2 linked regions of the Homo sapiens genome follow. The protein of the gene in region 2 purifies or fractionates together with the protein of the main gene of each other region. This does not show direct contact. Each region holds a gene or a part of one and is shown on either strand. Other genes may lie near its edges.

Region 1 (3,825 bases), on a different chromosome or scaffold from region 2:
ATGTCTGATGTTGGTGAACCAGTCGACATGGGCACGACAATGATCAAATGCATGAATAAGCTCGTGTGTGACCACTCTGTTCATATGGGCCTGATTATGGATATTATTCTGGCACAAAACTATCTAGGAGACACCAAAATAAAAGAAGTTCAGTGATTCTAAAATCTCCTTCCATAGACTCGATCTTCTCTCCCACATGACCTCACCTCTCCCCCACAAGCTCACCTGCCTGGAATATCTCTACCCACTCTTCTTCATTGGCCACACATCTACCCATGGGACAAGTCCTAGTCCTAAGTGTACATGCTCCAATTGCCTCGCCCAGTGACTAACTTCTCCCTTCTCCTCTCTCTGGACTACAGCAGTACTTAGATTAAGGACACGTATTCACACACCATCCTTACTGGGCTGATCGTACTAGTCTGTCTCGGACTCCACAGCATTATGGTTAAGAGAGTGGGCTTTGGAATGAAGCACACAGATTCAAATTCCAGCTCCACCCCTTACTAACTCAGTGACCTTAGGCAAGTTTCTTAATCTCTCTGTACCTCAATTTCCTCAACTATAAAAAGGAGATAATTAGGGTAGCTACCTCATAGAACTGTGAGAATTAAATGAGAATATATGTAAAATACTTCTTATCAAGTTTCTGAATGAGCATTGAATGAAAAAGGAATGACCACCACTGTCCTCATTTTACTAGAATGAGGGCAAATGCCAGGGAAAACTCATCAGAAAGACCTTCAGAAAGAAGTGCAAAACACAACAGCACACTGAGCAGGACCCTATAAGAATAAGAAAGACACAAGGGATCCTAATAGTAATAGCTGCCATTGATTGTGTACTACTGCCAGACACTGGGATATGTGCCAGATATTTATATACATTCATTCAACATCCATTGATTCAACTAATACTTATTGAGACCTAATAATAGATTATAATCTACTGATGGAGATAGAAACTAACCAAATATTTACCAAAATGTTTACATACATGCAATGACAGTTGTCATGAAGAAAAACCCAGGTTGTCATGAGCATATACAATGAGGTTGGGTGCAGTGGCTCATGCCTATAATCCCAGTACTTTGAGAGGCTGAGGCAGGCAGATTCCTTGAGCCCAGGAGTTCGGGACCAGCCTGGGCAACAGAGCAAAACCCCATCTCTATAAAAAAATAAAATAAAAATTAGCCAGGCATGGTGGCACATGCCTATAGTCCCAGCTACTTGGAAGGCTGAGGTAGGAGGATCACTTGAGCCCAGGAGGTTGGTGCTGCAGTGAGCCAGGAACACGCCACTGAACTCCAGCCTGGGCAAGAAAGGGAGACCCTGTGTCAAAAAAAAAAAAAAGAAAAAGAAAGAATGCCTGACCTACTCTGGAGGTGGGGGAAGGTTTCTCTGTGGAAGGAATGGTTAAACTGGTATCTAATGGAGGAATAGAAGTGAAATTTGAGGTGTGGAGGGGAAGGGAGTATTCTAGGCAGAGAGAAAAACCTATGCAAAGCGTAGAGGGAGGGTTGACGGAAGAAAATGCTTGAGAAGCTAAAAGGAGAGCCCTAGAGTTGAAGCACAGCGGTGGGGGTGGTAGGCAACAGATACGGCTGGTGAGGTCGGGGGGCCAAATCCCTGAAGACCTTGTCTTTACCCTAAGAGCAATGGGAAGCTCTCAGGATAAAGGGAATGTTGAAACAGAAGACTGCTTTTGTTTTATTTTGCTTTTATCCTTTTAACTATAGTTGGAAGAATAGGCAGGAGATGGCCAAAACTGGATGCAGAGAAATTAGCTGAAGGCTAATATTCTAGGCAAGAGAGAACAGCACTTCAGCTAGAATGGTGGTGGAAGCCAAAAGAGTTATTTAGGAGGTAAATTAGACAAAATATGTTGATAGAATACGGGGAAGGAATCAGGGGTATCAAAGATGATCCATAAATTTCTGGCTTGGCTAATAGGGTCGATGGTAGCACCATCCACTGAGATATGCAAAACTAAAAGACTGGGTTGAGTGGGGAGATGGGGGATGGTAAAAATCATGAATTTGGACTTACACATTTCAAGTCTGAAGTGTCCTTAAGACCCTTAAGTAGGTGGGGAGCAGTGGCTCTCACTTGTAATCCCAGCACTTTGGGAGGCTGAAATGGAAGGATCATTTGAGGCCAGGAGTTTAAGACCAGCCTGGGCAACATAGTGAGACCTCATCTCTACAAAAAATTTTAAAAGTTAGCTGGGTCCAGTGATGCACTCCTGTAGTCCCAACTACTCAGGAGGCTGAGATGGGAGGATTGCTTGAGCCCAGGAGTTCAAGGCTGTAGTGAGCCATGATTGCGCCACTGCACTCCAGCCTAGGCGACAGAGCAAGACCCTGTCCCAAAAAAACTTTTTTTCCTTAAAAATAAAAATAAATAAATAAATAAAAAGATGCTCAAGTAGAGGTGTTAAATGGGCACTTGGATATATGGAATGTGGAGTTCTTAAAAGTGAGCTTTGACCCCAGAAAATTGATGAGACCTCCTTGGCAGAGTAAGAAAAGAAGGGGCTCTATGACCAAGGATTGAGGGACTTTGACATTTAAATGCTAGTAGAGGAAGGTAAGCTAGCAAAGGAGCAACCAGAAGAGTGCTGTATACTAGAAACCAAAGAAAGTGTTTGGCATTAACAGCTGAAGTCAAGTGTATACAAACTATATGACCCAGTAATTCTGCTCTTGAGCATATACCTTAGAGAAACTCTTGCACATGTGCACCAGTAGCGAAGGTCAAAAATATTCATAGCAGCATTGTTCATAATAACAAAGTTGGAAACAATCAATATTAGAGTAAACTATAGTATAAACACACAACGGAATAAATACCATATAACAGGGAAACGAAATAAACCAGAGAGGTACACACAACAACAAGAAAGAATCTCACAAATGCTGAAGGTGGAAAGTAATTGGAGACTATATACTGTACAATTTCATAATACTACAAAATGCTACATAAAATTCAAAGTATAACATGTATAAAGCTCAAAAGCAGGCAACTAAATAACACACTGTTGGATTGTATATGTAGATGGTAAAGCCATTCAGAAAAGCAGGGAATGGTTACCACAAAAGTCAGGATAAGGAAGGGAAAAGGACCTGATTCAAGAGGACCACGAAGGCTTCTGAAGTCCTAGTAATGTTCTTTTTCTCTAGTCTGGGTGGTGGTTACATAGGTGTGCACTTTATTATTACTGAAAGTGTACATATAGATGTTTTACTCTTCTGTATGAATGAGATACTTCATAATAAAAATTTTCATTTAAAAAAATAGGCCAGGCACAGTGGCTCACGCCTGTAATCCTAGCAGTTTGGGAGGCCAAGATGGGTGGATCACCTGAGGTCAGGGGTTCAAGACCAGCCTGGCCAATATGGTGAAACCCTGACTCTACTAAAAATACAAAAATTAGCTGGGCATGGTGGCACATGCCTGCAATCCCAGCTACTCAGGAGGCTGAGGCAGGAGAATCACTTGAACCCAGGAGGCAGAGGTTGCAGTGAGCCCATATTGCACCACTGCATTCCAGCCTGGGTGACAGAGTAAGACTCTGTCTCAAAAATAATAATAATTTAAAAAATAATAATAAAATAAAAGGAGAGGGTGCCCAACTGTGTTCAACACTGCTGAGAATTAGGATGAAAGTTCAAGATGTGCACTCTGTTTAACCCTGGGGGGACCGAGAAGGGAGTGAACTTATCCAGAGCCATTTTGAGAGCTATAGGTATTGTGATTACCAGTTTACAAATGAGGAAACTGAGAAGAAGAAAAATAACTTGCCCAAGCCCCACAGATAATAAGC
Region 2 (3,825 bases):
ATGAATAATGTAAACATAGGAAAATAGGAGGGTATAATGAATTGCCATGTACCTGTCACCTAAATATAACAGTAAACATCTCCCCGTTGCTTTTGGTTGAAGTAATTTTAAAACATATAAATATGCATTTCTTTTTTTAAAAATGAGGACATTTCTGTATACAGGTTGAGCATCACTAATCCAAAAATTCAAAATCCAGAATGCTCCGAGATCCAAAACTTTTTGAGCCAGTAACGTAACACCACAAGTGGAAAATTCCATACCTGACCTCATGTGATGAGTTGCAGTCAAAATGCAGTCAAAATTGTGTTTCATGCACAAAGTTATTTAAAATATTGTGTGAAATTACCTTCAGGCCAGGTGTTCAAAGTGTGTATGAGACATAAATGAATTTTGTGGTTAGACTTGCATCCCATCCCCAAGATGTCTCATTATTATAGGCAAAATTCCAAAATCCAAAAAAATGTGAAAGCCAAAACACTTCTGATCTTAATCATTTTGGATAAGGGGTACTCAGCCTTTATACTATAAAACCATTATCAGACCTACCAAAATTAACAATAATCCGATTCTTCTACATACTCCTCCCAATTATCTCTGACAAAGTTTACATGTGTTTAGCTGAAACATGCCTCTATTCTCTTAATCTATAACAGTTCCCTCAAAAATATTTTTCTTTTATAACATTTTCCTGTTGAAAATTGGGCCATTCTGTGCCCGCTGACCCACTTTTTGGATTTGTCCTAGTGTTCCCTGCAAGCTGAGAATTAGATCTAAAGACTTGATTGCATTCAGGTTATGTATTTATTCTTTAAAGAAATACAATAAAAAGGTCCTGTCCTTTAGGCGCGATGGCTCATGCCTGTAATCGCAGCACTTTAGGAGGCTGAGGCAGGCAGATCACTTGAGTCCATGAGTTCGGGACCAGCCTGGGCAATATGGAAAACCCCCATCTCTACTAAAAATACAAAAATTAGCTTGGCATAGTGGCACGCACCTGTAGTCCCAGCTACTAGGGAGGCTGAGATGGGAGAATCACCTGAGCCCAGGAGGTTGAGGCTGCAGTAAGCTGAGATAGCACCACTGTACTACTGTACTCCAGCCTTTTTTGAGACCCTGTCTCAAAAAAAAAAAAAAAAAGTCCTGTACTTTTATTTTCAGGATGACTTCCGTTCCTTCTCATCCTCCTTCCCTTCTCCTTTCTCTACACACAGTGAAGAGGTAAAAAATTTGAATAGTACAACACAAAACTAATTGAAAATTCTCTCCACCTTTCCCAAATCAACCACTGATATGAGAGTGTTATGCATTTACAACGTGCTTTCTACGTGAAGGGTTGATTTTTTAAATCATCTCAAAGATGACTTTGAAAACAAGTGTACTTCTCAAATTAATTCAAACTACTGATACTTACATTTTATTCCCATTAAACTACACAATTTGACTTCTTCGCTTAGAGACTCCACACAGACAGCCAAGGAAACCGATGACTATCTGACTGAGCCCAAACAGGACCTCCAGAATTCCAACAAGCAATAGACCTAAAAATACTGAGAAGTGGATAAGCCTATGTTTGTTTTCTTCAGAATCGAAGTGGAAACTAGATGCTCTCCAGCCACTCGCCATGGTGTCGTTACTGGTGGGTTTATTGAAACCAGTAGGAGGTGCACAAGAGTCATTGAAAAACCACTGCAAGTTGAAGGATTCTGGATGAATGTCACTGAAAAACAAAAGATAAAAATCAGATATTCAGAAATATCCCTGACCAAAGGAAAGTAGCATTGTGCACATAAAAGAATGAGTGAAACGAATGTACTTTTGAAATATCGTGCCCAGAAATGACAGAGATCAGGGTTTCTGAGCATGTGTCCATATACTCTACTAGTTACAAAACTTTTATTACTTATATAGCCCATCATTTAACAAGCATCTCTATGGTACATCTTCTCTTAGGTTGAACGGTATGAAACTGCTGTTTTGGGATGTCAGAAATAGTTGAATGTCAACAGTTTTTCGTGGTTCAACCTATTTATTTTATTTATTCAGATACTCTTCTACTTGCTAGATATAAAAACTAAGGAGCCTCCCCTACCCCCCGCCACCCCCATTAAATGAGCTCAGTTCTTAGTGCAGAACTACAGCGTGGCGTCCGTTCTTCAACCAGATGTACAGTTTTTACTGATTAAATATGTCTGATTAAAGTGATGTGCCTGTTCTTAACGGGGCTGTGGAAAATGAGAAACTTTTAGCCCTAATACATCTATCTCAAGATGATTTTTTGTTTGTTTACTGTAGAGTAAAATGGAATGTTCTTAGGGAGTTTGCATTGCTGGATATCAGCAACTGACATTCAACCTGGGAAAACAACAGTATTTTCAGCACATGGAATATGAGTGTTTTGTGAAATGTGTAGCAAGCCAAGGATCACTCTCTTGTAACTTTGCTAGCCTAGCCCATCTCCGCAACTAGGCTGAGAATATCTGAGCGCTGTTGTCTGCAGAGCGTAGCCTGGTGCCTGGTACATTGTGGGCTGTTGTCATTCCCTGGGGATTTAATGTGCATAGCATCTGTGGTAGAAATCTTTAACCCTTTACTTCAAGTCTATTAGCAAGGAGACTTTCCTTGGCTTTGTTTTTGAGACACAGTCTCACTCTGTCACCCAGACTGGAGTGCAGTGGCTTGATCTTGGCTCACTGCAACCTCCGCCTCCTGGGTTCCAGCAATTCTCCCGCCTCAGCCTCCTGAGTAGCTGGGACTAGAGGCGCGTGCCACCACGCCTGGCTCATTTTTGTATTTTCAGTAGTGATGCAGTTTCACCATGTTGACCAGGCTGATCTCAAACTCCTGACCTCAAGCGATCCACCTGCCTTGGTCTCCCAAAGTGCTGGGATTACAGGCGTGAGCCGCTGTGCCTGGCCTTCCTTGGGTTTTGGTTCAAAACAAATATGCTACACAAAATTTGAGGGACTTTCTTTTTTAATGTAGCAAGGTAAGGGAAAAGGAGAAAAAATTTTTTGTATGTAACTACAAAAGTAAATTCTGGTTATTTGCTAAACTGAGCAGGCTATACAGAGAGGTAATGGATTAGATAGTTTTTTTCTTCCAGTTTTTACAAATTGTGTCTAGATTCAGTCACAGAATGATGTACTTAAAAGACTAAAATGAGCCACTTATTAAGTACATGTAACTCTCCAGTATTACTTGTTATTACATGACTTAAAATTTGGATTCATTCCCATGCATACAGTATATTTATAGCATATCTGTATGAATCCATTGGTTGCTCTTCCATTTAAGCCTACAGGCAAGGCTCTGCATTTTATTTATTGTGTTTTTATTAAATTTTTTAAATTGTAAATGTAATATTTGCTCATGGTTGACAAATTTAATTAGTTCAGAAGTGTAGAAAGTAAATGTTCTCTTCACTCTCATAAAGGGAATCCCCTATTTCCATTCTCCAAGGATGAAAGTTAAGTTTCTGGTGTATATTTGCATAATTTTTTAATATACATACACATATGTAACTGTAGATTTTTGAAAGACAAGCATAAGCCATTTGAGATCAACTAGTCCTTTTAGACAATATCTAAAAGTCCTTTTAGAGCATTGTAAATCTAATGATTCCTCCATTTTGATGTGGAGTTGTGCTAACTGGCGTTAATGTACTAAAATTCCTAAGAATCCGTTTGTCCCGGCAGTTGCATCAAATAAAAACATGGCATTGTTCCAGTACTGCATTAATCTAATCAAACTAGTTCAACTGTGTGAGACAGTAAGCCTGTGAAAATCAAGTTACTTACCTGATGTTTTTCAATGAAAATTCAC

What was found.
Region 1: the proteins of TM4SF20 (region 2) and ATP23 purify together in Homo sapiens (affinity purification with mass spectrometry; one large-scale study listed by BioGRID and IntAct). This does not show direct contact.

What each region holds. Positions count from the first base shown.
Region 1 is NC_000012.12:57,948,056-57,951,880, reverse strand, and holds part of ATP23 (mitochondrial inner membrane protease ATP23 homolog), read right to left. Parts: intron 1,168-3,825; exon of another isoform or gene 997-1,167; intron 124-996; coding exon 1-123.
Region 2 is NC_000002.12:227,362,293-227,366,117, forward strand, and holds part of TM4SF20 (transmembrane 4 L6 family member 20), read right to left. Parts: coding exon 3,801-3,825; intron 1,721-3,800; coding exon 1,432-1,720; 3' UTR 1-1,431. UniProt on the Homo sapiens protein: Polytopic transmembrane protein that inhibits regulated intramembrane proteolysis (RIP) of CREB3L1, inhibiting its activation and the induction of collagen synthesis.